4 linked regions of the Homo sapiens genome follow. The protein of the gene in region 1 purifies or fractionates together with the protein of each later gene. This does not show direct contact. Each region holds a gene or a part of one and is shown in the gene's direction. Other genes may lie near its edges. The genes, in order: GTF2IRD2B, ZMYM1, ACVR1C and PRMT3.

Evidence for each region.
Region 2: the proteins of GTF2IRD2B (region 1) and ZMYM1 purify together in Homo sapiens (affinity purification with mass spectrometry; one large-scale study listed by BioGRID and IntAct). This does not show direct contact.
Region 3: the proteins of GTF2IRD2B (region 1) and ACVR1C purify together in Homo sapiens (affinity purification with mass spectrometry; one large-scale study listed by BioGRID and IntAct). This does not show direct contact.
Region 4: the proteins of GTF2IRD2B (region 1) and PRMT3 purify together in Homo sapiens (affinity purification with mass spectrometry; one large-scale study listed by BioGRID and IntAct). This does not show direct contact.

The regions. Positions count from the first base shown.
Region 1 is NC_000007.14:75,145,087-75,152,900, forward strand, and holds the end of GTF2IRD2B (general transcription factor II-I repeat domain-containing protein 2B), read left to right. Parts: intron 1-2,607; coding exon 2,608-4,211; 3' UTR 4,212-4,731; downstream 4,732-7,814.
Region 2 is NC_000001.11:35,082,629-35,091,078, forward strand, and holds part of ZMYM1 (zinc finger MYM-type protein 1), read left to right. Parts: intron 1-6,120; exon of another isoform or gene 6,121-6,531; coding exon of another isoform or gene 6,532-6,547; intron 6,548-8,450.
Region 3 is NC_000002.12:157,620,336-157,628,785, reverse strand, and holds part of ACVR1C (activin receptor type-1C isoform 1 precursor), read left to right. Parts: 5' UTR 1-141; coding exon 142-214; intron 215-8,450. UniProt on the Homo sapiens protein: Serine/threonine protein kinase which forms a receptor complex on ligand binding. The receptor complex consists of 2 type II and 2 type I transmembrane serine/threonine kinases.
Region 4 is NC_000011.10:20,500,550-20,508,999, forward strand, and holds part of PRMT3 (protein arginine N-methyltransferase 3), read left to right. Parts: intron 1-7,754; coding exon 7,755-7,864; 3' UTR 7,865-8,450. UniProt on the Homo sapiens protein: Protein-arginine N-methyltransferase that catalyzes both the monomethylation and asymmetric dimethylation of the guanidino nitrogens of arginine residues in target proteins, and therefore falls into the group of type I methyltransferases.

The DNA.
Region 1 (7,814 bases):
TCTGTTCTGATTGAGCAATGCCCAGGCACTCTGCTTCTGAAATATTCTCTTTTTTTTCCCCTTCAACTTTTATTTTAAGTTCCAGGGTCCATGTGCAGGATGTGCAGGTTTGTTACACAGGTAAACGTGTGCCATGGTGGTTTGCTGCACCTATCAACCCATCACCTAGGTATTAAGCCCAGCATGCATTAGCTATTCTTCCTGATGCTCTCCCTCCCCCCGCCCCCACCCTGTTAAATATTCTTAATGTCTTCCCCGGAGCCCTTGCAAGTGAGTCAGTATCCTGTCAAGTAGAATACGGAGAGGTGTTCTCACGAGCATGAGTCACCAGGGAACCTCCTAATGTAACATTTGAAAACCAAAGTAGGCTGGGCGCGGTGACTCACACCTGTAATCCCAGCACTTTGGGAGGCCGAGGCGGGCGGATCATGAGGTCAGGAGATGGAGACCCTTCTGTACAACGTGGTGAAACTCCGTCTCTACTAGAAATACAAAAATTAGCCGGGCATGGTGGCGCGTGCCTATAATCCCAGCTACTCGGGAGGCTGAGGCAGGAAAATCACTTGAACCAGGGAGTCGGGGGTTGCAGTGAGCTGAGATCGTGCCACTGCACTCCAGTTTGGTGACAGAGCAAGACTCTGTCTCAAAAAAAAAAAAAAAAAGAAAAGAAAACCAAAGTATCCTATTAAAATGCTCCATTTTTATTCCCAAACGCATCTGATTGCTAAATGATTTTTTGATCTTTTATAATATCTTTATTTATTTATTGTATTATTATTGGGGTTTTTTAGAGACAAGGTCTCACTCTGTCACCCAGGCTGGAGTGCAGTGGCATGATCATAGCTCACTGCAGCCTGGAACTCCTGCCCTCAGGTGATTCTCCCACCTTCACCTCCCGAGTAACTGGGACAGCACTGCCATGCCCAGATAATTTTTTTTTTTTTTTTTTTTTTGTAGAGACAGGGTCTCACTATGTTTCCCAGGCTGGCCTTGAGCTTCTGGCTTCAAGCGATCCTCCTGCCTCAGCCTCCCAAAGTGCTGGGATTATAGGCATGAGCCGCTGTACATGGCCTACATTTTCTTAAGGTGCACTTTTATGTGTGTGTACTCTGGAAATACCTTGATTACCTGCAGGGTGGCCAGGTTCTTTAAATCTAAAACACTAGTCCCTGTACACTCGAACACACTTATACGAATGAGTTTTGTGTGGTTCTGTGGCCGTCACCCTTGTCATTTGAGACTCACAGTAGGTAAAAATCATATGCCTTTCTGTGCTCATTCCCATCTCTGTTATTACAAAGTTTTCTTGGGAATCAAATGAGAAAATATATTAAAATGCTCACACCTATAATCCCAGGACTTTTGGAGGCCAAGGCAAGAGGATTGCTTGAGGCCAGGAGTTTGAGACCAGCCTGGGCAACATAGCAAGACCCCATCTCTACAAAAAATTTAAAAATTAGCTGGAAACAGTGGCTCACACCTGTAGCCCCAGCTACTTGGCAGGCTAAAGCAGGAGGATCACTTAAACTCAGGAGTTTGAGACAGCAGAGAACCATAATTGCAATACTACACTCCAGCCTGGGTGACAGAACAAGACCCTGTCTCTAAAAAGAAAATGCAAACATATTATCAAATAATTCCTGTTTAAACTGGACATAACAAGCACAGCTACATGCTGAACCTCATCAAAGGTGTCTTTTGTTTGGCTCATGTACTTTTGAAAATAAGGATGAGGCCTGGCACGGTGGCTCCTGTAATCCCAGCACTTTGGGAGGCCAAGGCGGGTGGATCGCTTGAGCCTGGGGTTTCAGACCAGCCTGGGCAACAAGGTAAGACTCCAGCTCTACAAAAAAAAGAAAAAGAAAAAGAAAAAAAGAAAAGAAAGAAAGAAAGAAAAGATAGCTCGGTGTGGTGCATGCCTGTAGTCCCAGCAACTGGGAGCTGAAGTGGGAGGATCACCTGAGCCCAGGGAGTTCCAGGCTGCAATGAGCCATTATCACCACAAACCAGGCACTCTTTCATAAAGGTCAATCTTCAGGTTTTCTTTAGAAAACCTGAAGATCTGGCTGGGTGCAGTGGCTCATGCCTGTAATCCCAGCACTTTGGGAGGCTGAGGTGGGCGGATCACCTGAGGTCAGGAGTTCGAGACCAGCCTGGACAACATGGTGAAATCTCATCTCTACTAAAAATACAAAAATTAGCTGGGCGTGGTGGCAGGCACCTGTCATAACAGCTACTCAGGAGGCTGAGGCAGAAGAATCGCTTGAACCCAGGAGGCAGAAGTTGCAGTGAGCCGAGATTGCGCCACTGCACTGCAGCCTGGGCGACAGAGCAAAACTCCGTCTCAAAAACAACGACAACAAAAATTCAGTCTTCAGGTTTTCTTTAGAAAACTTGAAGATCTGGCCACAGCTGGCGTCCTGGCAGCGGTTTGCTGGAGTTGAGGGTCAGCCGTCCCTCTGCAGGGTGGGTCACCCTCCTGTTAACCACGCCCTGCCCCGCCCCGCTTCCTCCCTCTCGTGCGTCATCAAGCATTTGCTGTTGTTTTCCTCATAGTAGTGATAAGAGAAAAGTGAAATATCTTTGTCTCCCTGTCTCTGTCAAAAGTGGGAAAACGCAAGATAGACCAGGAGGGCCGTGTGTTTCAAGAAAAGTGGGAGAGAGCGTATTTCTTCGTGGAAGTACAGAATATTCCAACATGTCTCATATGCAAACAAAGCATGTCTGTGTCCAAAGAATATAACCTAAGACGCCACTATCAAACCAATCACAGCAAGCATTATGACCAGTATACGGAAAGAATGCGTGACGAGAAGCTTCACGAGCTGAAAAAAGGGCTCAGGAAGTATCTCTTAGGCTCGTCAGACACCGAGTGTCCCGAGCAAAAACAAGTGTTTGCAAACCCAAGTCCAACCCAGAAATCCCCCGTGCAGCCTGTAGAGGACCTAGCTGGGAACTTATGGGAGAAGTTACGTGAAAAAATCAGGTCTTTTGTGGCATATTCTATCGCAATCGATGAGATCACGGATATAAATAATACCACCCAGTTGGCCATATTCATCCGTGGTGTCGATGAGAATTTCGATGTGTCCGAAGAACTTCTGGACACGGTGCCCATGACGGGTACAAAATCTGGCAACGAGATCTTTTTGCGTGTTGAGAAGAGCCTGAAAAAGTTCTGTATCAACTGGTCGAGATTAGTAAGCGTGGCCTCCACTGGCACCCCAGCGATGGTGGATGCCAATAACGGGCTTGTCACAAAACTGAAGTCCAGGGTGGCGACGTTCTGCAAGGGTGCGGAACTGAAGTCCATCTGTTGTATAATTCATCCGGAATCACTCTGTGCTCAGAAGTTGAAGATGGACCACGTCATGGACGTGGTAGTGAAGTCCGTGAACTGGATATGCTCCCGGGGACTGAACCACAGCGAGTTCACAACCTTGCTCTATGAGCTGGACAGCCAGTATGGTAGCCTCCTGTACTACACGGAGATTAAGTGGCTCAGTCGCGGGCTCGTGCTAAAGAGATTTTTCGAATCCTTGGAAGAAATCGACTCCTTCATGTCATCCAGAGGGAAACCCCTGCCTCAACTGAGCTCCATAGATTGGATCCGAGACCTGGCCTTCTTGGTTGACATGACGATGCATCTGAACGCTTTGAACATCTCTCTCCAAGGACACTCCCAAATCGTCACGCAGATGTATGACCTGATCCGGGCGTTCCTAGCAAAACTGTGCCTCTGGGAGACTCATTTGACGAGGAATAATCTGGCCCACTTTCCCACCCTGAAATTGGTTTCCAGAAATGAAAGCGATGGCCTGAACTACATTCCCAAAATCGCGGAACTCAAGACCGAATTCCAGAAAAGGCTGTCTGATTTCAAACTCTACGAAAGCGAACTGACTCTGTTCAGCTCCCCGTTCTCCACGAAGATCGACAGTGTGCACGAGGAGCTCCAGATGGAGGTTATCGACCTGCAATGCAACACGGTCCTGAAGACGAAATACGACAAGGTGGGAATACCAGAATTCTACAAGTACCTCTGGGGTAGCTACCCGAAATACAAGCACCATTGCGCAAAGATTCTTTCCATGTTCGGGAGCACCTACATCTGCGAACAGCTGTTCTCCATTATGAAACTGAGCAAAACAAAATACTGCTCCCAGTTAAAGGATTCCCAGTGGGATTCTGTACTCCACATCGCAACGTGATGGAGAGAAAACTCCTGGCAGGGCCCTATGGTGGGAAAGGCTGGAGTCTTCTAGTCCCAAGGGATTGGGAGATGACAAAATGAATTTTTTTTTTCTTTTTTGAGATGGAGTCTTGCTCTGTCGCCCAGGTTGGAGTGCAGTGGCGTGATCTCGGCTTACTGCAACTTCCAGCTCCTGGGTTCGAACGATTCTCCTGCCTCAGCCTCCCGAGCAGCTGGGACTACAGGCATGCGCCACCATGCCCGGCTAATTTTTGTATTAGTAGAGATGAGGTTTCACCATGTTGGCCAGGCTGGTCTCCAACTCCTGACCTCAGGTGATCCACCTGCCTCGACCTCACAAAGTGCTGGGATTACAGGCATGAACCACTGTGCCCAGCTGACAAAATGAGTTCTTAAACTTTTTTTTTTTTTCAGTTTTTTTTCCACTTTGAATCAGAAATATAATCTGCAGTATCATACTTGTTTATATTACATTGTATGCCTCACTATTCATTAAAAATCAAGAAAGTTTTATTGTATTATTGGTAGTTGACTTTTCTTATGCCTGGCTTGTTTCATTCATTCACATTACCTGCCTGCCACCCTGATAGGCACTGTAGTTGGCATCTTGAAGTTTAAATCAATCAACAGAGAAATAGGGAGAGAGACGTGTATATTTGCTTTTTGGTTTTGGGGGTTCTTTTTTTGAGACGGAGTCTCACTCTGTTACCCAGGCTGGAGTGCAATGGGGCGATCTGGGCTCACTGCAGCCTCTGCCTCCCGGGTTCAAGTGATTCCCCTGCCTCAGCCTCCCGAGTAGCCGGGGTTACAGGTGCCCACCACCACGCCCGGCTCATTTTTGTATTTTTAGTAAAGATAGGGTTTCACCATGTTGGCCAGGCTGGTCACAAACTCCTGACCTCAAGTGATCTGCCGGCCTTGGCCTCCCAAAGTGCTGGAATTACAGGCGTGAGCCACTGCGCCCAGCCTGAGACATGTATATTTGTGGAGGAGTATATATGAACACACATTTATCCCCCGTTCCCGTCCGCGTGGTATCCCACATGGTCTAATATGTTTCCAAGTTTCAGGAGAAATAGTTGAAAACATACTGACATACAATAATCCTATGTTATCTGTCTCTGCCTTCACCTGGAACCAGAAAGGTCAGGTTTAAAATGGAAAAACCCAGAGCCAGAAAGGTCAGGTTTAAAATGGAAAACCCCAGAGCAAATAACGTAGACTTTGTCTATAAAAGTTAGACAAAGTAAGTTAAGGTTTAGAGGGGTTTTTTTGTTTGCTTTTTACTATGAATAGTTACCGAAAAGTTGTGGCCAAGCATGTGGCTCACACCTGTAATCCCAGCACTTTGGGAGGCCAAGGTGGGTGGATCACTTGAGGTCAGGAATTCGAGACCAGCCTGGGTAACATGGTGAAACCCTGTCTCTACTAAAAACACAAAAATTTGCCGGGTATGGTGGCACGTGCCTGTAATCCCAGCTACTCAGGAGGCTGAGGCAGGAGAATCACTTGAACCCAGGAGACAGAGGTTGCAGTGAGCCGAGATTGTGCCATTGCACTCCAGCCTGGGCGACAGAGTGAGACTTTGTCTCAAAAAAAAAAAAAGAAAAGTTGCAAAAATAAAAATAGTATGGAAAATACTCACATGCCCTTTAGCCAGACTCTCAATTGTTAACATTTCACCCTTGTTTCATTATTGGATCACTTTGTCTCCCTACCCCCTTCCCTCCTTCTCCCTCTCACTCATATGTGTGTATGTGTATCTATAATCAGTACCTATGGTAAGTGTGTATAAGCAAATGTCTATGAGTATCTATGATATGTGTATAAATGGATGTGCATTTTTTTCCTGGACCGTTCAAGGGAAAGTTACGTATATCATTTACCCCTAAATACTTCAGTGAGTATTTTCAGAGAACAGGGATATTCTCTTACACAATAACGTTTCCTTTACCAACTTCAGTAAACTGAACGTTGTTGCAATTATTTTATCCAGTTTACTGTTCATACTCTAGTTTTCTCTGTTGACCCAATAATATCTTTCCCTTTTTTATTTTTGGAAACAAGGAAATCGGCTCGCTCTGTCACCCAGGCTGGAGTGCAGTGGTGCGACCTTGGCTTACTGCAACCTCTGCTTCCTGGGTTCAAGTGATCCTCCCACCTCAGCCTTCCAAGTAGCTGGGACTACAGGTGCATGCTACCATGCCCAGCTAATTTTTGTGGAGTTTTTTTTTTTTTTTTTTTGTAGAGACAGGGTCTCCCTTTGTTGCCCAGGCTGGTCTCAAACTTCCAGGCTCAAGCGATCTACTCGCCTCAGCTTCCCAAAGTGATATCTTTCCCTTTATAGCATTTTTCTCCTGGCAGGTTGTCATTTGAAGGTGTGTGTGTGTGTAATCTCTATTAGTCACTGGAATTAGTGACACAAAATTGTGAATACTTTCCAGATTGGGGGAATTCACGCGACCAGCGTGGAGGAAGGCTGTGGATCTCCACCTAATGACCCACTCAGGAAGCAATGGAGAAAAGGACTTTGATAAAAATGACAGGGGGTGCAGGAGGGAGAGAGCAACCCCCAGGCCAGGAGCCCAGTTGGAGCCCAGGTGCCTATCCTTAGACACAGGGAAATGACCCCACTCCAGGCAGTTCCTGTCGTTGACTTCAGGTACAGCTGGCTCTGGCAAGCTCAGCGCTCTTTTGGAGAAGGAATCCCAGATAGGCTGGTTTATAATGGGAGTTGGAGGGGAGTCCAGGTCTTGGTGGAAGTGAGCACTCGTTCACACCACATATCAGAGGTGTGGCCGAGCAGCAGGACCAGAGCAGCCCCCTTTCATAGACGGGAAGCTGAAGCTCAGAGTGGCTAAGTGGCTCGCTCCAGGTCACGCAGCCATTATAGGAGTTGTCAGGATTCAAACCAGGGTCCATGTGACTCCAAAGTCCATGTGCTTCACTTTTTGTTTTTGAGATGGAGTGTCGCTCTGTCGCCCAGGCTGGAGTGCAGTGGTGTGATCTTGGCCCAGTGCAACCTCCGCCTCTCGGGTTCTAGTGATTCTCATGCCTCAGCCTCCCGAGTAGCTGGGACTACAGGCATGCGCCACCACAACCGAATAATTTTTGTATTTTTTAGTAGAGACGGGGTTTCACCATGTTGGCCAGGCTGATCTTGAACCCCTGACCTCAAGTGATCCACCCGCCTTGGCCTCCCAAAGTGCTGGGATCACAGGTGTGAGCCACGACACCTGGCCCATGTGCTTCATTCCTAAGCAGCCACTGTGCCTGACATGGAGACCCAGCAGGTATCTGTCATGCAGCCTCTGCCCTCATCATCTGTCATGTGTGTGGCTCCCTGGTGGTCCACCAATCAGATGATAGGGAGGGGACAGTAGGGCTCAGCCTAAGCTGCCTCCTGTTGGCCGGACCATTCATGAAGCTGTTCTGCTTTGAATCAATTCCCAAGGCCCCAGGAATGTGTGTTGGGACCAGGATGGCTTGAGATATGATGGCCACTGACATGCACTGTCACTCATAGGACTGAGTTGAGACTGTGGGAATGACTGAATGGCTGGGAAAGGTTTTTCGTTTGTTTTTTTGAGACGGAGTCTTG
Region 2 (8,450 bases), on another chromosome or scaffold:
CCTGCTTTCCAACTTTTATGCTAAATTCCCATCTACTATTTTACTTTAGCTTAAAGAATTTCCTTTAGTGGCCGGGCGTGGTGGCTCACCCCTGTAATCCCAGCACTTTGGAAGGCTGAGGCGGGTGGATCACCTGGGGTCAGGAGTTCCAGACCAGCCTGGCCAACATGGTGAAACCCCGTCTCTACTAATAATACAAAAAATTAGCCAGGAGTGGTAGTGCATGCCTGTAATCCTAGCTACTCAGGAGGCTGAGGCAGGAGAATCACTTGAACCCGGGAGGTGGAGGTTGCAGTGACCTGAGATTGTGCCATTGCACTCCAGCCTGGGCAGCAAGAGTAAAACTCTGTCTCCAAAAATAAAAAAAGAATTTCCTGTAGCATTTCTACAGTGTTTTCATTTGTCTGAAAATGTCTTTATTTTGCTCTTAATCTTGAAGGATATTTTTACTGAATATAGAATTTTAAGTAGATTTTTCCCCAGCACTTTAAAGATATTACATTGGCTTCTGGGGTTTTATTGTTTCTTTTCTTTTTTTTTTTTAAGACAGGGTCTCACTGTCCCCCAGACTGGTGTGCAGTGGCTTGATCACAGCTCACTGTAGCCTCACCCTCCCGGCTTAAGCAGTCTTACCACCTCGGCCTCCCGAGTAGCTGGGACTCCAGATGCATACCATCATACCCAGCTAATCTTTTAATTGTTTTTAGAGATGGGGGTCTCACTATGCTGCCAGGGGGTGGCCTCGAACTCCTGGGCTAAGCAGTCCTCTGTCCTCTACCTCCCGACATGTTCAAATTGCAAGTGTGAATCACCACACCCAACCTTAGTGCTTTTAAGATTTTCTTTTTGGTTTTCACCAGTGTAACTATGACATGCCTACTCGCGTTTTTCTTTATATCTTATTTGTGATTCACAGAGCTTGAATTCATGTGGTTTGATGTTTTTCTTCAGTTTTAGGAAATTGTCCTAAAAAATTGTAGGTATTTTTTGTTTTTGTTTTTTTTCGAGACAGTGTCTCAGTCTGTCACCTAGGTTGGTGTGCAGTGGTGCGATCATAGCTCACTGTAACCTGGAACTCTTTCCTGGGCTCAGGTGATCCTCCAGCCTCAGCCTCCCACATAGCCTGTACTACAGGCATCCACCACCATGCCCAGCTAATTTTTCTAATTTCTTTGTAGAGATGAGGGTCTCACTATGTCACCCAGGCTGGTCTCGAACTCCTGGGCTCAAACTCCTGCCTTGGCTTCCCAGAGTTCTGGGATTATAGGCGTGAGCCACCTTGCCTGGTATTTTCTTTCAAATACTGCTTCTTTTGCATTGTCTATTTTCTCTTATCCTAGAACTGAATAAGAGATCCCACGTGGCACATTATTCTAGATTCTTATTCTAGAACTGAATAGGAATCCCACATGGCACATTATTTCAATTTTCCATCCTTTTATCTCTGTGCATCAGTGTACCTTCTAGCTTGTCTTCTTCACTAATTTGATATTCATCGATTGAATTCTTAACTTCCTCACTGTGTTTTCCAATTCTAGATTTTCCATTTAACTTTTTTTTTTTTTTTTGATGGATGCCAGGTCACTACAGAACTTCTCCATCTTTCCTCTGTTTTCTCAAACATAACCAAGTCCTTGCCTGACAAGAACAATATCTGAGTCACCTGTGGGTTTGTTTCTATTGCCATTTTTTTCCAGTCAGTTTTGGGATTTTAAAAATTCCTCTTAGTCCATAAATTATTACTGGATTCTGGAAATTTTGGATGAACATTATTAGCATCCGGATGTACTTCCTTCAAAGCAGACTAAGGTTGCCATTAGGCACGTGGATAGTAGTAGCAGATGACATTGATCCTGTTGAGGGTTGATTATAGGTCTTGTTAAGACTGGTCTATTTCAGTTTGTCCTTTCTTCTTGGAAGTGGTCTCTTTTCCTCCTGGGGCATAGCCATTACTCCTAGGGCAAGGCCCTCCTTGAGTCTCAACCCGAAATCCAGGTCTTTACCAAAACCCCTCTATCTTGCTGGTCTTAAATTTCAACTCTCAACTCAGCATAGCTGCTATAATCTTATTAGCTCTTTGACGTTTAACTGCTGTGTTCTGTTAAGTTTTTGAAGTCTCACTCTGTAAATGTGCAGTTTAGGAGTCCGCCAATGACTTGGAGGAGGGGAGATTTCTATGCATATTATTTTTCTGTAGTTCCCTCCTCTCCCAGATTGTGCCTCTTGAGTTCCAGCTACTTTAGAATCCAGTACTTCTAACTGTCTCCTGCTGTTTTCTGCTTGGGTTTCCACTATTTTGTCATGGAAAGTCCCCTTACCAGTAAAGTCTGTTAAATTTTGTAATTAATTCCAGTGAAAGGATTTAGTATGCTAAAGGCTACTCTGTTATGCCTGGATTTATCCGTTTTTTGTTTTGTTTTGGTTTGGTTTTTTTTTGGAGACAGAGTCTCGCTCTGTCGCCCAGGCTGGAGTGCAGTGGCACTGTCTCAGCTCACTGCAAGCTCCGCCTCCTGGGTTCACGCCCTTCTCCTGCCTCAGCCTCCGAAGTAGCTGGGACTACAGGTGCCCACTACCACGCCTGGCTAATTTTTTGTATTTTTAGTAGAGACAGGGTTTCACCGTGTTAGCCAGGATGATCTCGATCTCCTGACCTTGTGATCCACCCGCCTCGGCCTCCTAAAGTGCTGGGATTACAGGCGTGAGCCACCGCGCCCGGCCCCCATATTATTTTTACTTCATGCTAGTCTGTTAAAATCTGGAGCTCAGTTGGTTTCCAAACTGCATAGGATCTGATTAGGCAGAAATGACTTTGGCAGGAAGGAAAGCAGTATGAGGACAAGTAAAGTGAGGAGGTTAAGGTGCAGCTGATTCTTTGCCTTGACATCTGTCTCCCTTTCCCTCTGGCCCAAAGAGGAGGATAGTGTTTTCTCCTGTGGTTGTTGTAGATCTCCCTTTGGCTGCAGCTGTCCTTTCCTGACCCTGAAACCACCTCCATGACTACATTCCAGCTTCAGGGACAATAGCCTCCTTCCTTGAACAGTCATTCCTAGAGCTCTCTTGGGCCTGCCCTTTCTTGCCTTTGGTGTGGCACATGCCAGCCACCTAGCTCTAATAGGGAATTATTGTTGTTAAATCAGTATTCTGTACCCCTCATTCCCAGCCTAGTTTTGAAATGTACTTGTGGTTGGAGTGCTAGGTTCACACTGGCCCCTAGCATTTGTGGGGTCCTTGCTAAGAGTATGAATGGAAGCCCACATACTCTGTGTCTAAATATTTAAAAGTTATAAATTAAGCTAACACATCGTGGAATAAAATGAGTTCCATCCTCCTGCCGTGACAAATACACCTTTGTAATGACCAAATAGAAAAACACGTGTAAAGCTGTGGTTTTCAGGACTGAAAGTAAGCAAATTTTCAATGATGACAGAATTCAATTTTATGTATTACGTTTAAACATTGTATTTGGGTTACTCATGGTAAATTGTTATCACAGAAAATATTGAAGATTTGAATTTCATTATATAAATCACTGTCATTCATAATGTGGCTTTTTAAAATCATTTCTTCAAGTCATATTTATATTCATACAGAATTTTAAGGTTTTTTCCCAAAATTTTCAATATATACAGAATTTTAAGGTTTTTTCCCAAAATTTTCAATATTGGGTTATTAGTTTATTTTATTTATTTATTCTGAGATGGAATCTTACTCTGTCACACAGGCTGGAGTGTGGTGGCGCAATCATATCTCACTGCAACCTCTGCCTCCCAGGTTCAGGTGATCCTCCTGCCTCAGCCTCCTGAGTAGCTGGGACTACAGTCTGGGCTATTTATAAAAAGCAGAAAATGACTGTTTGTTGCTAAATTTGTTCAACTCTGTCTCCAATCAAGATTGTAACTTAATCTGTAGCAGTAAAAAAAATAGTCTCTATATAAATTAGTTTTGAGATTATATGTCTGTGAATCTTATTCATCGTCATGCAGTTTCCTTTCATTATTGTAACTGCCTTATATTTCATTGAAATCTCATGCAATTTTTTTTTCAATTAAAAAATTCTTTTTTTTTCTTTTGAGATGCAGTTTCGCACTGTCACCCAGGCTTGAGCGACAGTGAGCTTGATCTCAGCTCACTACATCCTCCACCTCCTGGGTTTAAGCAATTCTCTGCCTCAGCCTCCCGAGTAGCAGGGATTACAGGCGCCCACCACCACGCTTGGCTAATTTTTTTTGTATTTTTAGTAGAAACAGGGTTTCACCATCTTGGCCAGGCTGATTTTGAACTCCTGACCCTGTGATCCACCCACCTCAGCCTCCCAAAGTGCTGGGATTACAGGCATGAGCCACCGCACCCAGCCTTTTTTTTTTTTTTTTTTTTTTTTTTGAGATGGAGTCTTGCTCTGTCGTACCCAGGCTGGAGTGCAGTGGCACGATCTCCACTCACAGCAGCCTCCATCTCCCAGGTCAAGAGATTCTCCTGTCTCAGCCTCCCAAGAGCTGGAACTACAGGTGTGTGCCACCACACCTGACTAATTTTTTGAATTTTGAGTAGAGATGGGGTTTTACCATGTTGGCCAGGCTAGTCTCGAACTCCTGACTTCAGGTAATCTGCCTGCCTCAGGCTCCCAAAGTGCTGGGATTACAGAGGTGAGCCACTGTGCCCGCCCAAAAATTCATTTTTTAACAGTAGTTTGAACCATCAGGGTTATATAAATACTATTGTACTAATTTTCCAGGAGGAATCTGGATGATATCCCCTGGAGGTCTATATGTGTATCTGGAAATAACTCTTGAAACTTGCATTTTCTTTTTTTTTTTTGAGATGGAGTTTCGCTCTTCTTGCCCAGGCTGGAGTGCAATGGCGCAGTCTCAGTTCACTGCAACCTCTGCCTCCTGGGTGCAAGTGATTCTCTTGCCTCAGCCTCCCAAATAACTGGGATTACAGGCATGCCCCACCACGCTCGGCTAATTTTTTGTATTTTTAGTAGAGACAGGGTTTCTCCATGTTGGTCAGGCTGGTCTCGAACTCCCAACCTCAGGTGATCAGCCCGCGTTGGCCTCCCAAAGTTCTGGGATTACAGGCGTGAGCCACCACGCCTGGCCTCGAAACTTGCAGTTTCTTTGTGATCTCGTGTTTTACTTTAAGAATGAATATGGGCCGAGGGCAGTGGCTCATGCCTGTAATCCCAGCACTTTGGGAGGCTGAGGCCGGTGGATCATGAGGTCAGTAGTTCAAGACCAGCCTGGCCAAGATGGTGAAACCCGATCTCTACTAAAAATACAAAACTTAGCCAGGCATGCTGGCTGGTGCCTATAATCCCAGCTACTCAGGAGGCTGAGGCAGATAATTGGTTGAACCTGGGAGGCGGAGGTTGCAGTGAGCTGAGATTATGTCACTGCACTCCAGCCTGGGTGACAGAGAGAGATTCCATCTCAAGAAAAAAAAATGAATGTGAATTTTGTTGTCTGCTCTTATCATATTTCTCTCTTTGGTTTAAATTAAAATATTTTATGGCTGGGCGCGGTGGCTCACACCTGTAATCCCAACACTTTGGGTGGCCGAGGCAGGCGGATCACAAGGTCAGGTGATCGAGACCATCCTGGCCAACATGGTGAAAACCCGTCTCTACTAAAAATACAAAAATTAGCTGAGCTTGGTAGCACGTGCCTGTAATCCCAGCTACACAGGATGCTCAGGCAGGAGAATCGCTTGAACCCGGGAGGTGGAGGTTGCAGTGAGCCGTGATCGTACCGCTGCACTCCAGCATGGGCAACAGAGTGAGACTCCATCTCAAAAATGTGTTTATGTGTATATATATATATATATATATGTGTGTGTGTGTGTGTGTGTGTGTGTGTGTGTGTGTGTGTGTGTGTATGTACATATATGTATATATATTTTATATTACTACCAAGTAGTATTGCCCAGCAGGAAGATGTGCAACATTCATCCTTTGACTATTAATACCTGTACTCTTTCATACTATGATTTAGCCCTAGTTTGGAAAGATGAGTAGGGCTATATTAAAAGAAAGTCTGTAGGACTTATTTTACTCTAATGTGCATCTTGTTGGAAAAGGAAGTAATGGATCTGTCACTAATACATGTTTTGCTCTTCTTATAGCCAAACAAATGTTGCATAGCATTTTCCCTTGCCTCAGAAATTTTCAGGATGCTTTCCTTTTTTTTTTTTTTTTTTGTTTTTGAGACAGAGTCTCACACTCTTGCCTGAGCTGGAGTGCAATGGCATGATCTCGGCTCACTGCAACCTCTGCCTCCCAGATTCAAGCAATTCTACTGTCTCAGCCTTCCGAGTAGCTGGGATTACAGGCGCCCACCACCACGCCCGGCTAATTTTTTGTATTTTTTAGTGGAGATGGGGTTTCACTGTGTTGGCCAGGCTGGTCTTGAACTCCCGACCTCCTCATCCACCCACCTCAGCCTCCCAGAGCGCAGGGATTTCAGGCATGAGCCACTGCGCCCAGCCTCCACTATTTTTATGTTTGTATGGTGACACATTTGAAGGAGTTGCAAGATGCCAAAGCTCATAGGTACTTTGTTTTGTTTTATCTTACGAATAACAATAATTGTACCTCACGTAAACCTCATTGGCTGTGATACCGCCACTGCACAAAACTCGGTGCTTTGTTTTTAATTGATGTTTAAGACTTGCATGGCATGTGTACTTTCAGGTGAAGGGAATCTACCTAATGACAAATAGTTAATTTTTAGTGAGTTTTGCTTTACTGTTTGTGTATAATGCTCAAATGGGCTGGACAGAGGCTGTATGAGCTATTTATTGCACTTGACTCTCAGGCCTTATTTAACTTTCTGCATTGGGATAGGAACTTTCAACAAAAGCTGAGCTAAAGATGGAAATGAGGGAAGGTGGTTGAGCCCCAATCACAGAAATAAAAAATAATGGCAGAATTACTTGGGTCTTTCATGTACTAACCCAGAATAAAACCATAGTCCTGGAATTACTCCTGTAAGAGGTTTTTTGTTATTTTTTTCTTTTTTTGAGCCCATTATTCTAAGTGATCCTGTAACAACTTCAACTTCTCCACATTTGTGTTAGTTATCATCTGCCCTCCATAATGATTAGTTGTAAGGCTTTTTTTTTTTTTTTTTTTTTTTTTGAGATGGAGTCTTGTTCTGTCACCCAGACTGGAGTGCAGTGGCATGATCTTGGTTCACTGCAAGGTCTGCCTCCCAGGTTCACGCCATTCTCCTGCCTCAGCCTCCCGAGTAGCTGGGACTACAGGTGCCCGATATAAGGCTCTTTTTTTTTTTTTTTTGAGACAGAGTCTCGCTCTGTCGCCCAGGCTGGAGTGTAGTGGCGCGATCTCGGCTCACTGCAAGCTCCGCCTCCCGGGCTCATGCCATTCTCCTGCCTCAGCCTCCCAGAGTAGCTGGGACTACAGACACCTGCCACCACGCCCGGCTAATTTTTTTGTATTTTTAGTAGAGATGGGGTTTCACCATGTTAGCCAGGATGGCCTCGATCTCCTGACCTCGTGATCCACCCACCTCGGCCTCCCCAAGTGCTGGGATTACAGGCGTGAGCCACCGAGCCTGGCCTATAAGGCTCTTTTTTAAGGATCTAGGAGACAGGAAGACTTGCACTCTGAAGCCAAGCTAGGGTGGCAGGAAGGGAAAGGGTTCCAAAGGATTTAGAATCAGAGGTAACAGCTACCAGATAAGTGGAAAGTAGGCCTCAGTCAAGGAAAAAGGAGAAAAGAAGGAACCAATCTGTCTTTGAAAAAGAGACCTTGCTGGGAGGGATAGCATTAGAAGCTATACCTAATATAGGTGACAGGTTGATGGGTGCAGCAAACCACCATGGCATGTGTATACCTATATAACAAAACTGCACGTTCTGCACATACACCCCAGAACTTTAATGAAAAAAGAAAAAGAGACCTTGCTTTCGTAGTTCCTCAAAAGTTGTAAGATTGACCAAAAAGGAATCTATTGATTTGGATAGTGAGGAGAAGCAGGCAGGCATGTGTGATGGGAAAATAGACTTAAGACTTATTTGACTGGGTGTGGTGGCTCACACCTGTAATCCCAGCACTTTGGGAGGCCGAGGTGGGCGGATCACCTGAGGTTGGGAGTTCGAGACCAGCCTGACCAACATGGAGAAACCCTGTCTCTACTAAAAATACAAAATTAGCCAGGCGTGATGGCACATGCCTGTAATCCCAGCTACTCGGGAGGCTGAGGCAGGAGAATCACTTGAACTTGGGAGGCTGTGGTTGCAGTGAGCTGAGATCGCGCCATTGCACTCCATCCTGGGCAACGAGAGCAAAACTCTTGTCTCAAAAAAAAAAAGACTTAATTAAAAGGTAGATTGATCTAATTTCATAATTAGATTTAGGGAGAAGAAGAATAATTCCAGGTTAATCCTAGATTTCTGGCATGGGAAATTAGGTATATGACACTGCTATTTAC
Region 3 (8,450 bases), on another chromosome or scaffold:
TAGAGCCAACCGCGCACTTCAAAAGGGTGTCGGTGCCGCGCTCCCCTCCCGCGGCCCGGGAACTTCAAAGCGGGCCGTGCTGCCCCGGCTGCCTCGCTCTGCTCTGGGGCCTCGCAGCCCCGGCGCGGCCGCCTGGTGGCGATGACCCGGGCGCTCTGCTCAGCGCTCCGCCAGGCTCTCCTGCTGCTCGCAGCGGCCGCCGAGCTCTCGCCAGGTACGGTGCTGGTTTCTCTCCCGACGCCCGCGAGGGTGGGAGCTGGGAGGAGGTCTGCGGGTGAGCACGGGGGTGGGGGACAGGGGGTGCTCCGAGCAAACTGACCTTCGGGGCGGACAGGGAAGCGCCAGTCGGATTGAGGGGGCGCGGGATAGGGTGCAGCGTGGGCACCTGACGTCTGGCAGCCGTAGGGGTAGACAGGTGTGTTGGGGACGAAGCCGCCCGGAAGAGGGAAAAGGCAGCAGGGACGTGGGGGAATAAGTAGTAGGGGTGAGGTGGGTGACTAATTTGTGGGCAGTTTGCAGCGGAGAAAATAGGAGAGCGTTTGTGGGTGCGCGCATGGCTGGGAGCTGGGTTCACCCTGCAGGGACCTGGAGGGCTGCAGGTATGCGTCGGACGCGCTCTGTGCTAAGCCCCTGAGAGCTGCTCAAGGATGGTGGCATGGTGGTGGTGGGAGGTGGTGATTTAGTCTGAGTTTTAGGAGGCGGGGAATACCCCAAAAGCCGCAGATGCCAAGCTATGGAGGCGAGAGTGGGAGCTTAAATCTGTGTGGTTTGCAACGCACATTGCTTTCGAGGTACGATCTTTACTCAGAGTTCCTGGGGAAAAAAATTCTGGCAAGCGCCCCAGAGTTTATAACAGGTCTGTGCCTTGATAGGCTAAATAGAGCCCTCTACCCAATCTAGAAGCCAGACGTTTCTTTATAATGTTTACTAGAAAGTGGGGCAAATGCATCTTTGGTAAAATCATAATATGCTGTGACTAAAAGCCCTTTACCTCGAAAACTATTTTCATTACATTGTCCTGGATTATGCAGAGGAGGAGCAGATTCTTTGCTAACTCATTCTTTAAAAATTTCTATCAGACATTGAAGACATTTGCACATAAAAATCTGGTGTTTTCCCATAGAGCTGTGTTTTGTCCGAAGCTGATTTTGATGCATTTTGTTTTCCCAGATGACAATCTGTTTGACATTAATAGCTATATTCATGGTGGGTCGTTTTCCTCTTAGTGACATGTGCAAGAGAATGATTTGAATGATATGATTGCTGTCATGTACAGATTTCAGTGTTTCAGATGGCCTGAGAGAATCACTAAATACAATATTCAAATATAAATTTGATTATTGAAAAGGATTAATTGACAAAATCTGAGGATTAAAACATTCCAGTTATCTTTTAGGAAAACAGCCCAAGACTGTCGGAAAGATGATGGGATAAAGTGAAATATTTGCATTTAGAGTTAATAAATTTATAAGTGGGAGAAAACCAACTATGGGAAAGTCTTTAAAAAATGGGTGAAAACTCTGCTAACTTGGGATACTGAAAGTGCTCTTGACAATTTAATAGAGTTTACAAAAAAAAGTCTTCAAGGTATCACAGTTTTGATGGGGTGAAACTGCCTCTGGAGGCTGTCTGTACAACTCTTTTTATTTGGAGGAGCTGATAACTTGGCTGCACACATTTCTACAAAACAGATTCAATTTTTTTAAAATGTAGCTTCAAGGGTATATTTTGTTGTATACCCAGAATCTTTAGAAAATTTCAGAGACCTTGAGCATAGCAACATGCCTCATGTTCTTGAAAAGGCATGGAAACTTTTGACATTGAAATATGCAAAAAATAAAAAAAAGATAATCCATTCAAAGTCGCTCACTTAAAATTTGAAGTCTAAGAAAAATGCATGATATGGAATAATATAGTAGAGATGTATTTATTGAAGCTGAACTTTTATGAAAAACTTTTCTATGTCAAGTGCAATCATTTTCAAATCTCCTTAAGAAGTTTTTACCCCTCTGTGTCCCACGTTAACAATGTATATTGCTACTTATAGTATTTATTCTTAACTTTATATAAAACTCTGGCTATTTAGTAGAAAGATTCAAGGTAGTTTTGTTTTGCTTTTCACTTTTTCAATTGGTTTTATGACATGGTTAGCCAACTGTATTTTTACCTGGTCACTTTTACAAATTATACTGTTAATCATATTGGCCATTTATGACATGTACTTGCTGTTGTTGGAATGTTATATGAGAAGTTGTTCTTGATGTAATGACATAGTCAGTGAAACTGTGTGACAGAAGGCACCACCTTTCATCTGGATCTGCAGAGCAGGCCTACGACTTTAAATATCTGAACACATGATAAACCAGTAAACCTTTTTTACTTTGGCTGCTCATTCCCCACATTGTTGTCACCTTAGGGGTGTCCATTGCTCCTTTTTGAGAATCTCAGAAGATAACAGCTGGTAGAGACTTAGAAAAACTGTTTATTGGTCTGGACTGGAATTAAAAAAATCAGGCTGGCTGGGTGCAGTGGCTCACGCCTCTAATCCCAGTACTTTGGGAGGCCGAGGTGTGAGGATTGCTTGAGGCCAGCAAGTTCAAGACCAGCTCAGGCAACATAGTGAGACACCATCTCTACAAAAAATTTAAAAACAATTAGCCAGTTCTGGTGGCACACACCTGTAGTCCTAGCTACTTGGGAGGCTGAGACAGAATTGCTTGAGACCAGGAGTTCAAGATTGCAGTGAGCCATGATCACACCACTGCACTCCAGCCTGGGTGACACAGTGAGGCACCGTCTCTAAAAACAAGAGCAACGAAAAACTCAGGCTCCTCTGAGTTGCTCTGGTTATGTAGGTTCTGGATGCCTTGATGTTTGATAAGAGAGACCTGACATGGCTTCACAATATTCACCATGTGTACCCAAAAAAGAAGTGGCAGAAAATGTCCTGGAGTTCTCTACTTTGAAGCTGTGATTTGGATGTTACATAGATTTACATATTGTGCATTCTCTTCTAATTTCTTGAAACTCCTTTGTCCTCTGGTCCAGAAAGGATTATTAAGAGTCCAGAAAGCCCTATGTTGTTACTCCAAAAATGGAATAAATATTTCCTTAATAACCAGGGTGAGAGTGGGGGTTTCAAGTAATGAAATTCTTCCCCCCACCCCCCTGCACCCCTCTGCACCCCCTCACCCCCACTGCAAACAATAGTTAGCAGTTTCCACTAAGAGTTTTCCACAGTGTTGCTGGAAGTGAAAGTGAAAGCTCAGGGCTGACTGAGTTTATAAATGCAAAAGATGTTGCCATCTTTGCCCTTCTTTAAGCATAGTCATTTATTGGTTGATTGACACAGATGTGGCAAGAGGCTCCCTGGTTCCAAGGAAGACATCTCTGGCCCAGGAGAAACTATGCTTAGAGATTTCCTCTGAATTGCTAAACTCATACAAAAAATAAAGGACTTTGAGGTGTGAAAGTGAGTAGCTAAGGATGATGCTACATTTTTGACCCAAGCAATGGAAGAATGGACCCTTAATTGGGGTGGGGCAGACTGCAGGAAAAGCTGGTCTGGGGAGAGAAGGGTTGGTGCTGACAGATCACAGGAGCTCAGTTTTGAATATGTTGAGTTCAAAATGCCTCTCAGATGCTGAAATGGAGATGTTAAGTAAGCAATTGGTTTTCTGGGTCTGAAGTTCAGGGGATAAATATGGACTGATGATAAAAAATTGAGAGCCAAGGGCATTTACTGATAACTTTTCAAAGACGCATTAAATAGAGCCACAGACTTAGCAAATAAGGCAGAGAATACCTTGTTAGATTGAATTTGAGATAAACAATGAATACCTCTTTAGTATAAGTGTGTCACAAGTATGACATGGAACACAAGTATATTAAAAATTAATTGCTGTTTAATTCCAATTTAACTGGGTGTTCTGTACTTTTATCTTGCAAACCAACATAAAAGAAGTCCTGTTGTGAGATAAACCATTCCTGATGCATGTATTTCTGGCTCTTTTATTAAAAAGAGAAGTGAAGACCTATTTTCTAGTCCTCAGCTCTAAAACCCTCGCCTGTTCTAGCTCCGTTACTGTCTTCATGTGCATCTCCCAATGTGTCACTCCCAACTCTTTGCACAGGATATCTCTCTTCTGTGTGAACCTGAAAGGATACCTAGTTTTCTCCAATCCTACATGAGTATCTAGACATGAAAATATGGGTGAAAAAAACAAGAATAACTCTTGATTCCCTTGATTGTTGCATGAAAGCAGTTGGTTTTTCCCAAGTTCGCTGTATTTTGGAAGTGGTTATTTTCAGATGTGATTTTGGAGTAGTTTCCTTTTGAATACACTTTCATGTTTCTCTTTTGGGGAAATGCTTTCAGGCAGTAGCCAAGACCCACTTTGTTGTACTTTTCTTGGCACTACTTGCATCTCTTGCCGTAAATAAGGTTAAGAGGAGAGGAGATTGGATAGAGGCAGGAATAAGGAGGCTGCTGAGCCCTGTGGGACCTGTTATTCTGATATAGTTTGAAGTTTTAGAGCATGTTCCTAAGAGAGCAATGACAAGATTTTGGGGAAGGGGCTTGGATACATAAATATCATCCTGAAGCTGTTTAGTTCCTGCTCTAGCTTAGTCTTGACCTACCAAATGATTAATGTTATCTTCAATTTGAGATCTGTAGTGTCCTATAAGTGGACAACTGCAGGCATGGATCATTAAAAAGCTCAGATTATGTTGACATATATATAAAGAGTTTATTTTAATAAATAATAGAACAAGAGAATTAATTTTCAAGTATAATTAGTAAACAGAACAAAACAAAGGAAAAATTCTAAGCATAAAGAGTGTGCTATGTATTATGCCTTATCATTAAAAAAATTTAAATTATTCAAAAAAATTTTTGTGGGTGCATAGTAGATATATATATATGTATGGGGTACATGAGATGTTTTGATACAGGCATGCAGTGTGAAATAAGCACATCATGGAAAATGGGGTATCCATCCCCTCAAGCATTTTATCCTTTGAGTTACAAACAATCCAATTACATTCTTTATTTTAAAATATGTAATTATTACTGACTATAGTCACCCTATTGTGCTATCAAATGGTAGGTCCTATTCATTCTTTCCATATTTTTGTACCCATTAACCATCCCCACCTCCCCCACCAACCCCCTACTACCCTTCCCAGCCTCTGCTAACCAGCTTTCTATTCTCTCTGACCATGAGTTTGATTTTTAGATCCCACAAATAAGTGAGAACATGTCATGTTTGTCTTTCTGTTCCTGGCTTATTTCAGTTAACATAATGATCTCCACTTCCATCCATGTTGTTGCAAATGACTGGATCTCATTCTTTTTTATGGCTGAATAGTACTCCATTGTGTATATATACCAGATTTTTGTTATCCATTCGTCTGTTGATGGACACTTAGGTTGCTTCCTAATCTTAGCTATTGTAAATAGGGCTACAACAAACATGGAAGTGCAGATCTCTTCCATATACTAATTTTCTTTCTTTTGGGTTATATCCATCAGTGGGATTGCTGGATCATATGGTAGCTCAAGTTTTAATTTTTTGAGGAACCTCCAAAGGGTTCTTCTTAGTGGTTGTACTAATTTACAATCCTACCAACAGTGTACAAATGTTCGCTTTTTTCCACATCCTTGCCAGCATTCATTATTGCCTGTCTTCGGAATGTAAGCCATTTTAAATGGGGTGAGATGATATCATTGTAGTTTTTATTTGCATTTCTTTGGTGATCAGTGATGTTGAGCACCTTTTCATGTGCTGTTTGCCATTTGTATGTCATCTTTTGGGAAAAGGCTATTCAAATCTTTTGTCAATTTTTTTATTGGATTATTAGATTTTTTTTCCCTACAGTGTTATTTTAGCTCCTTATATATTCTGGATATTAATCCCTTGTGAGAGGGGTAGTTTGCAAATATTTTCTCTCATTCTGTGGATTGTCTTTTCACTTTGTTGATTGTATCCTTTACCATGCAGAATCTTTTTAACTTGATGTGATCCCATTTGTCCATGTTTGCTTTGGGCATCTGTGCTGGTGGGCTATTACTCAGGAAATCTTTGCACAAACTGATGTCCTGGAGATTTTCCCCAATGTTTTCTTGTAGTAGTTTCATAGTTTGAGGTGTTTAATTCATTTTGATTTGACTGTTTTTGTATATAGTAAGAGATAGGGGTCTAGTTACATTCTTCTGCATATGGATATCCAGTTTTCCCAGGACCATTTATTGAAGAGACTATCCTTTCCCCAGTGTATGTTCTTGGCACCTGTGTTAAAGATGAGTTCACTGTAGGTGTGTGGATTTGTTTCTGGGTTCTTTATTCTGTTGCATTGGTCTATGTGTCTGTTTTTATGTCAGTACCATGCTGTTTTGGTTACTGTAGCTCTGCAGTATAATTTGAAGTCAGATAATGGGATTCTTCCAGTTTTGTCCTTTTTTCCTTAGGATAGCTTTGGCTATTCTGGGTCTCTTGTGGTTCCATATAAATTTTAGGATTTTTTTTTCTATTTCTGTGAAGAACGTCATTAGTTATACCTTATAGTATCTTCTTGGTTTTCCATTGCTTTGGTCTTCTAAGTCTTATATTTTTCACAGTCAATAGTCAAAATCTCAAGATTTATCCTTACCTTGTTGAAGAAATTGGGATAGTATGTTTAAGAAATTGAGATATGTTCATAAATGATACACAAATGACTCTTTTGCTAATGGGACCTAGGAATACCCAAACACTAGCTGCTGAGTCTCATCTTCAGTTAAGAGGTGACATCTAGAAAAAGGAGGTGAAACAAGGCAAAGTAACTTTTTCTTATTACCTGGAGCTTTTGTCCCCAGTAGCATGGCAAACTTGAATACGCTCTTCTTTTCAACAACTAAATAGCCCAAGGATAAAGGTAGAGGAGCTGTGATAAACCCGAACCCTGGATTCTAACTCCAGGAAACCATTGAAAGGCTATTCAGTCCTGGCAAAATGAAGCCATAGAGGCTGTGGAGCAAGGGACCTCTATTTGCAATACCTCGCATTAGTCCAGGTCTCATGGAAACTGGCAGGAGTTCCAGGCAATAATTTCAGGGGCGACTGCTAGGTGAGGGAAAAAGTAGAAAGTCTGTGGAAAGAGGTGGCGGGATCTCTTCTACCAAGGAAGCAGGTTGTACCCTTCCCACACTTGCTGTGGAAAAGAAGGAAGACATAGCCATGACCATGAGCCCCTTGTTTTTCTTGTTCTTTGAAAGCTGGATCCCTAAAGCATGTGGGCCACTTGGTTCCCTGAAACCCGAACAATACAAATCACTACTCCTCCTACTTAGGGATCCAGTAAAAAGTAAAAGGATGGAGGAGGTGGGTGGGAGTATGAAACAGACAAGGAAGACCTTATTTACATAGAAGCCAACACTTTGCTCCTTCTCAGGGGCTACCATTGCCTCATGATGTGCCCCTTGAATTCACTGCTCTGATTGGCCAGCCAGGCTAACACGGCTCTGCTGTGTCCTGATTCTTCACTTTTTTTCCTCTAGAATAGCTTCTACTTTCTGTTGTTCTCTTCTGTCTTTTAGACAGTAGGCATGCAAAGATACTGTTTCTTTGGAGCTGTTTTAAATTAATCTCAAGAATTCATGGGTGATTCACTAGGTATGACTCAAGAGCTTGGCTTATTATTATTTTTTTAAAACAATTTAAATTTGCCAATGACTTAAACATCCCAAATTAGATCAATCCACTTTTTCATTAAACTTTTCACTTCAAGAAAATCATTAGGATGCTCCCATTTTGAAAGTGAAACACACATTTTCTCCCAATCTATTTTGTCGTTGTTATCTCATGGTTAATAAAAAGACAGGGATGGATGCTACATCTCTGCATATTGATTAAGCACCTTATACCTTTTTTTATGCAACTTGATAATTGACTGAAATAAAGACTCTATGATCAAAAACGGGACTAGAAAAAAAATCTAACTCATCAGGATATGGACATGTTCAAATAGCTAGAAGACCAGATTTTGAATGTTCTCAACATAAAGAAATGATAAATGTTTGAGGTGGTGGATATGCTAATTCTCCTGATGTGATCATTGGACACTGTATACATGTATCAAAACATCACATTGTATCCCATAAATATATACAATTATGTGTCAATTAAAAAATAATTAAAAACAACAAATATAAATTTTTTTTAATGCATACGTATCCAAGAGATGTTAATTCAGAAACTGGTAATCCGGATTACTACAGCTTAAAAAAACCAGATTGTTTTACAACAGAGCCAAAATATATTAAAGAGTATTAAGTAATCACATCTCACAACTTTATCCGATGGCATTTTCCTGGCCTACTCCCCTGGAAGTGTATCTTTTTTTTCTCTATCATCTCCATTTTCGTTCTCCAAGAGTAAAAATTCTATTCTGTGGACATTTGCTTGCTC
Region 4 (8,450 bases), on another chromosome or scaffold:
TAAGTCAGTATAACAAATAATCCAGAAATAGACCTGCTCTTGTATAATTAAATTTTTACAAAGGGGCAGTGTTGATTAATGGGGAAAGGGTGATCTTTTGAAATGGTGCTAGAACAAGTAAATATTTGTTTGAGAAAATCATTCTTCACACCATATCCAAAAACTAACATACATAAAAACTAAGTGGATCATAGGTACAAATCTAAAAGCTTAGACTGTAAAACTTCTGGAAGAAATAATATTTGAGACTTTGGAGTGGTTTATGAAACTAAGATAGTGGCAACATTCGAACACATTTTATGTAAGTAACACCGTAAAGTTAGTTTTAAACTTCTCACTGGACAGTCAATATCTTCAGGATAAAATACAAACTCCTATGTCCCTTTGCAGTCTGACTCTGGTTTTTCATCATTTCCAACCCCATCCTTTCACAACCCCAGGTAAGCTCATGTACTCCAGTTGTACAGATTGCTCATTTTTAAGCTAACTTTTATTTTTCTTGCTTTTGTCCAAGATGTTTTTCTACCTAGAAGGTTGTTTTGACCTCTTTCACTTGATAAATTCCAATTTACCCTTCATGACATAGCTAATTTCTGTAAAATTTAAATGTCTTCAGAGCTAATTGTTCCCTTTCTTGATTCCCCAGATAAATTCATATACACATTTGTTACAACATCTTAGTGTACTGGAGTTCTAATAGAAGTTCAACATCTTAGTGTGCCTCCCTCATTCCTTCTTGATGTGATGTAGTATTTGACATACTGTGCTGAATAAATGAATAAGTACAATAATATATATTGTCATTGAAATCCAATTTTCTCCATCACCTTGGGTAACACTATGCCAAGGTCATCTAGTGTCCATATTTGGATGGCCAATTTTGCCAACTCTGGTGTTACCAGAAATTTCATCATACTATTGCACTTGAGCAGGTTAATATTCAAACTTACCTTGGTGTGGCTGAAAAAGAGTTCTCTATAGTTATATTGAAACTAAAAGTAGCTTTTGACCCAATGTACTATAAGATTTTTAGATAAAAATAAATGAAGCTATGAGTCTAGTTTGGAAAAATTACTGTATGTAAAGCTTATTTTAGTGTCCAGAAGGTAATATGACAAGATAAGTAAAATATTGTAAATGGAACTATAGAGTTATTTTGCCTAGATGAGGACACTTAAAGTTTGAATTCAGGGTGGGTTTTCCCTTTACAATTCATGTACAGTTTTATTGTACAAACTTTTATTGTAAGTAAATATGGCAGTACTTTAAAATTCAAATCTTTTTAATGTGATTTGGCTTTGAAAATATAAAATCAGGCTATTTCTCTTTATTTATCCATACAGTACATAGTAAGCTTTTATATGATAGATAATCTGGGATTTTTTTCTTTCATTTTTAAACTCTAAGCTTTGACAACAATTAATAATGATTTGTTGTGTTTTTCTTTCCTTTTTCTGGGGAAATGAAGTTTCATTGCTCCGGAAGAAATTAATTCTAAAAAATACACTGTAACAATTAAAATGAAGTCAATTTTGTTCTTGAACTACGGCACTGCTTTGTGATATACTAACAGCCGTCTGCTGATGATAAAAAACAAGTCCATGCGGCTCAGCTCCAGAGTGTTCCTTCCAGCTCTCACCACAGTGCACACACTTAACAACATCAGTCATTTTATATCTATTTGACACTGATTAATTACTCTGATTCATTCTGGTATTATAGCCACTGCCTTGGCACTTTAGTTAGGTCTGAACAATTGAAGGGAGATCAGCAGTGTGAATTATGTATTTATTACTGTGACCCTTCATGCTACTTAATTAACTTAAATGATTGTGTGTGCACCCTCATCTTTGAAATATGATTATGGAAAAGATTTACCTGTATTTCATTTTAAGAAATGAAAATCATGGTTATCAGCATCAGCTTATATATATGACATTATGTTAATTTTTCAGCTGCTATATTGATGCTTAGCATTTTTTCTTTTGTGAAAAATTAACAAATATCCATTACTAATTCATTTTGACTGGGGTTTTTTATTTCTAAACTGAGGAATGCATAGAACTCTTATAGGTACATCCTTTGATCCTGAAATGAAGATGATAACCAGATTTATAAGCACTATGGAACATTTCTATTTTGACTTGCACTAAGGATTGAATAGGACTTCTATAAACAAGACAGCTTACATATTTTTAACACTCAAAAGGCAATGTAAATGAAAGAGCAGCAACCATCAGAACAAATGTACAAAAATGAAATATTTACTAGCAATACCTCATATGCTTCAATGAGAAAAGAAGTAAGGTAAATGCACCAGATTTTTTAGATGGTAGTTAAATAAATAGTACTTATCTCCTCTGATTTGAAATACAAATCAGAGCAATCACGTTTTGGTTGTTGTTTTTCATTTACTCTTTTGTTGATGAAGATGGCAGGAATGTAACACTGGAATATATTTCATACCTTTTATGAAGGAATTATACTTCTGATAATCCATCCTAAAGAATCAATTCAAAATTCAGACTTAAAAAATACTTGTTACACAAAGACACTGCTTTAATTTGCTTTTCTTTCTTTAAACTATCTTGCTTTATAGAATTTTTTTTCATTTTTTATAGTCACATCTGTCAACCTTTTGCTTTTGGTGTCTGGCTTTGGTTTCATCCTTTAAAAGATTATATTACTACTTTTGTACAATGTATTGAATCCTTTCCTCAGTGACTTAAAATGCTCCACTTACTATGTACTGAGTCTTCATAATTGATCTTATTTCTCTCATTTGTCTGTGTTTATTCCTAGGCACCACATTTTTAAACAAATAATTTACATATAATCAAAATTCACACATTTTGATTGTACAGCTCATTGAGTTTTGAAAATTACATATACCACTGTGGAAATATAGATTATTTCCATCACTCCAAAAAGTTTCTTCTGCAATTCCCTGTATGGTCAGTCCCCAACCGTGATTCCCAGACCAAGACAGTCACTGATATGCTTTGTCATTATATGTTAGTATTACCTTTTTAGAATTTTTATCAATGGAATTATACAGCATGTACTCTAGCTTTCTTGGCATTTTTTTTTTTTGAGATTCTTCTATCATTAGGTTGTTCCTTTTTATTGCCAAGTAATATTCCTTTGGCTATGCCACAGTTTACTTAGGTATTCACCTGCTGCTAGACTTTTGTATTGCTTTCAGTTAGGGGCCATTAAGAATAAAGTTGCTATGAATATTCATGTAAAAGTCTTGGTGCAGACAGATGTTTTCATTTCTCTTGGGTAAGTACCTAGAAGTGGAATTACTGGGTCTTATGGTAAGTGTATATTTAACTTTATAAGAAACTGGCAAATTTTTTAAAAATGACTATGCTATCTAACATCCCTAGGGCTAACACCATTGTGAATTCAGTTGTTCCACATCATTTTTAACACTTATAAAAAAGATGCAGTATTTTAAGCCGTTTTGAGTATGTAGTTATAGCTGTGCTTGTAGTTTTCATTTGCCTGATGTGATGTTGGGCATTGTTTCATATGTGTATTGGCCATTTTTATATCTTCTTGTGAGATTTCTGCTCAGATATTTTGCTTGATTTCAAATTGGGTGGTCATCTAATTGAGTTAAATTTAAAAGTTAATAATAGTTCATCTTTTCCCAAATGTATATTCACTTGCTCCATCATCATTTCTTAAAAAGACTATCCTTTTCCGATTTAATCGCCTTGGCTCCCTTGTCAAAAATTAATTGACCATATGCATATAGATCTACTTCTGAGCTCTCATTTTCCCCCAGGGATCTGTATGTCTGTCCTTGTGCCTTTAAGACAGTCTTTATAAGATTGAAAAAGAACAAAATGGCAAGATTTACACAAACAGTTGTTTTGGCTATTCTAGGTCCTTTATATTGCCATATAAATTTTAAAATCAGCTCATTAATTTCTGGCCTAAGAAAGCCTGTTAGGATTTTGACTGGGATTTTGTTAAATCAATAGATTAGGGAAAATTGACATCTTAACAACATTGAGTCTTTCACTCACGAGAGAGTGGGTCTCTCCATTTATGTGGACCATCTTTAAAGTTGTTTTGTAGTTTATGTAAGTCAGACATATATTGTTACATTTATCTCAAGTATTGTATGTGTGTGTGTGTGTGTGTGAGAGAGAGAGAGAGAGAGAGAGAGAGAGAGAGAGAGAGCGAGAGCGACTGAGACTCGGTCTGTCGCCCAGGCTGGAGTGCAGTGGCATGATCTCTGCTTACTGCAACTGCCACCTCCTGGGTTCAGGCCATCCTTGTGCCTCAGCCTCCCAAGTAACTGAGACTACAGGTGTGCACCACATGCCTGGCTAATTTTTGTGTTTTTAGTAGAGACAGAGTTTTGCCAGGTTGGCCAGGCTGGTCTCGAATTCCTTGTCTCAAGTGATCCGCCCACCTTGGCCTCCCAAGGTGCTGGTATTACAGGCATGAGCCACCACACCCAGCCTTTATGCTTTTTTGAAGCTGTTGTTTGTAGTATTATATAAATTCTTCATTGCTAGTACGTAGAAATAGAATTTTTATACCTTGATCCTAAATCATAAGACCTTGCTTAAACTTCAATAAATAGTTCTAGTAGCCTTCTTTGCATATAGCTTCAGGATTTTCTATGTATAAAACCAGGTAGTATGCAAATGAAAACTTTAATTCCCCCTCCCCCAGTCTGTATCCTTTTTCCCTCCACACTTTAATGTCCTGACTAGGACATCTAATAGAATACTTACTTTATGTTGGGTCTCTGGAGGTCATTTTGTTATTTTTGAATCTCAAGTGTCCATTATCTGTCTTTTCATATGTGAACTACTTTATACCAGCAACTAAATTAAGTAATTTGTATAAGACATACTGCTTGTAAGTAAAAAGGAACTAACAAGCCACTGTGTTGTAAAAATCAAGTTTGTTGATTCAGTGTTGGCAATTCAATAACAGTAAGTTAAACCCAATAACCAAGTTGGCAATTACTATTCTCTGTCATGTATTTACAAAAACATTGTCAGTTTATCATAATGTGGCTGTTCGTTCCCAGTTTTGGTGTCAATAAATAACTTAAATAGAAGTTTTTAAATGTTGATTTAAAAAGAAGCAAATAAAATAGCCAAAATAGAAAAGTCAAAATAGGAAAATCTTAAATGTGTTCAATATACTAATGATCTTTTATTTCTTCCTTAGGTTAATGCCTTAGATAAGAAAACGTGTATCATTGTTCATTAGTTATTATAGAATAATAGTTACATCAACTTACATATCAATTGTGTTTATAAACAAGTAAATATTTTTACCAAAAAAAAAAAACAAAACCCACGGGGCGGTAAAATTTAGGTCTATTTCTTATTCATTATAGTATATTTAAAGCTATAATCATCATTTTTTTAGATAGAGATAGGGAAGCACCAGAGTATAGTTGAGGAACTTGGGTTCTGGAATCAAACTGCCTTGCTGAAAATCCTAGTTCTTTCACTAGCTGGCAGATGACCTTGGGCAAATTACTTACCTTTTCTGAACTTCATCTGTGAGTAAGGAAAATGCGCTTACCTCATAGCAATATTTTGTGACCATTAAGTGAGATAAATCATGTAAAGACCTTAGAGTAGAGCCTAGCACAAAGTAAGTGTTGAATAAATATAAGCATAAATTATCTAATGATTAACCTGAACTCCATAAAGTTTGTAGAACTATCTGACTGGTAATCTTTATTATGTCCACTATTGGTGAACATGTCATATGAGATAGTTTTATATCATTTTCTTAATATAGAGGAATAGGTCAGATATAAAAGCTAAAGCCAAATATACACATTAACATATATACGTACACAAAAATTGTTATATTTTGTTGAATGGATTGCACCTTGGGCCACATTATTTCTTCTATTATTTAACTCCTTAATTATGTGTTAAACTGTGAGTCTCACCTTTTTTGCAAAGATGTAGAGAAGGTATCAGTAATGGAATCTTTATATTCTGAAAATAAATATAACAGGTGGTTATGTTTTACTTGTGTTATTTCACTACCATCTTGAAAAGCATTCAGATAATTTTCCTTGAATATGGGGAATTTGTATTTTTTTAAATACGATATTCATTCAGTACTTCAATAGTTTTATGTAGATTTCCTTGGTCATTATATGGAGCCTCATTGTGTCCATGCAGATGCTAAAGCTATTCCTGACACTGTTTGGTGTTATCTTAATATTATTTAAGCAAAGAATGGTGATCAACTACAACTTAGCAATTTGTTACTTTTTAAACAGCTCTTTAAAATAAATGAAAAATTAAATGAGAAGTATTTATAATTAGAAAAGTACATAGATAAAAATTTGGAACCTACAGAATTTAGGAAATCAGCCTTTGCACAGGTAAGTAATTTTTGTGTGTTCACTGTTTCACATGGGTACATTGTTTCCCTTTTACAGCACCAGTGCATCAATGGCCAATGGCTTTGTCATGTGCCTCTACATTTTCCCAGCTATAATTTTCAGTTCCTCAAAATGCCATTCCTGAAGGTTCTGTGTATGTGTTTTCCTTAAATACCATTACATGTACATCCCTTAAGCCTGGTTCTCCATGACTTCAGCCCTGGCATTGGGTAATTCATTAATTCTTGTGAAACCTTGCCTTTAACTGCCTTCCAACCATCCCCAGTGCTCACCTCCAGCACACTTTAGACACATGCCTATTGTGTAATTGTTAGTATAGCTTTTTTCTTCACCCTGATCACAAACTCTTTGAGGGCAGGGACCATATCTTTTTTCTAGATGCCCAGAACCCACCATAGGGCCTCATATTTAGAAGTTCAGTAAAATGCTTCCATTGACCCTTTATGACCACAATAGTTTTACTCACTTTCACAAGGATTTGACACTGTGGTATGTAGTTAGTTCTCGCTTCATTCAAAAATTAATGAAACAGGGCTGGGCGCAGTGGCTTACGCCTGTAATCCCAGCACTTTGGGAGGCTGAGGTAGGTGAGCGCATCACCTGAGGTCAGGAGTTCTAGACCAGCCTGGCCAAAATGGCAAAACCTTGTCTCTACTAAAAATACAAAATTAGCAGGTCATGGTGGCGCATGCCTGTAATCCCAGCTACTTGGGAGGCTGAGGCAGGAGAAATCACTTGAACACGGGAGGCAGAGGTTGCAGTCAACTGGGATTGTACCACTGCACTCTAGCCTGGGCAACAGAGAGAGACTGTCTTAAAAAAAAAATTAATGAAACATAATGCTGCTCTAAAAAATGAATATTGGCTGGGCACAATGGCTCATTCCTGTATTCCCAGCACTTTGGGAGGCTGAGGCGGGTGGATCACCTGAGGTCAGGAGTTCGAGACCAGCCTGGCCAACATGGTGAAACCCCATCTCTACTAAAAATAAAAAATTAGCTGGGCATGGTGGCATGCGCCTGTAGTCCCAGCTATTCGGGAAGCTGAGGCAGGAAAATCTCTTGAACCCAGGAGGCGGAGGTTGCAGTGAGCCAAGCTTGCACCAGTGCACTCCAGCCTGGGAGAATGCAGTGAGCTGAGATCACACCACCGCACTCCAGCCTGGGTGACAGAGTGAGACTCCATCTTAAAAAAAAAAAAAAAAAAAAAGAATATTAACCTTAAATAAAGTTTAAAAAGTGGGAAAACATCACAATAAAAAGAAGTGCTAGTTATACATTGTTTACTTTTCTGCTACACTGTATTCCTTGAATTCTTAACAATTTTTGCCTTTGTTTTACAGGTGAAGCCTTGAAAGGAAAGGTCACAGTTCACAAGAATAAGAAAGATCCACGTTCTCTCACCGTGACCCTCACGTTGAATAATTCAACTCAAACTTATGGTCTCCAGTGAAACAGCCATAAAAGCACACTACCTTGTAGTTTTTAATGTGGGGGTAGAGTGGGTCAGCAGGAGGGAGCTGGTTTTATGTGAGCAGATGGATGGATGATGGACCCTTTCCTAATGAGCCTCCTCAATAAGAGAGAAGTTCTCATTGTGGGAATCTGACATAGTTCAGCTGAGGAAGAGAATCAGCTGATCCTCATGGTCTGCCACGTAATCATTTTCTTAGACGTTTGCTCCACCAGATTTAACCAAATGTAACTCCCACATTGAGTTTATCTATATTGAAAATCATTTACATTGGCCTATATTTGGAAGAGAGATAGTCTTTTGTTTTTAATAAGTTTCTTACTATAAATTTTAAACAAATTGGTTAGTTATTTGGATATTTTATTAAACTAGTAACACAGGTACTACACATTTTATTATGGACTCCTCTGAGGAGGAGTTTTTAATTGTATTTGCTAGAAAATCAGGATGTAATAAAGATTTGTATAAAAAAACTAAAATATGGAAAAGAGCTTCAGCCTTCATATACAAATCATATATGCAGACAGCCTAGTTGATTATCTAGCATACTTAGGGTTCTCATTTT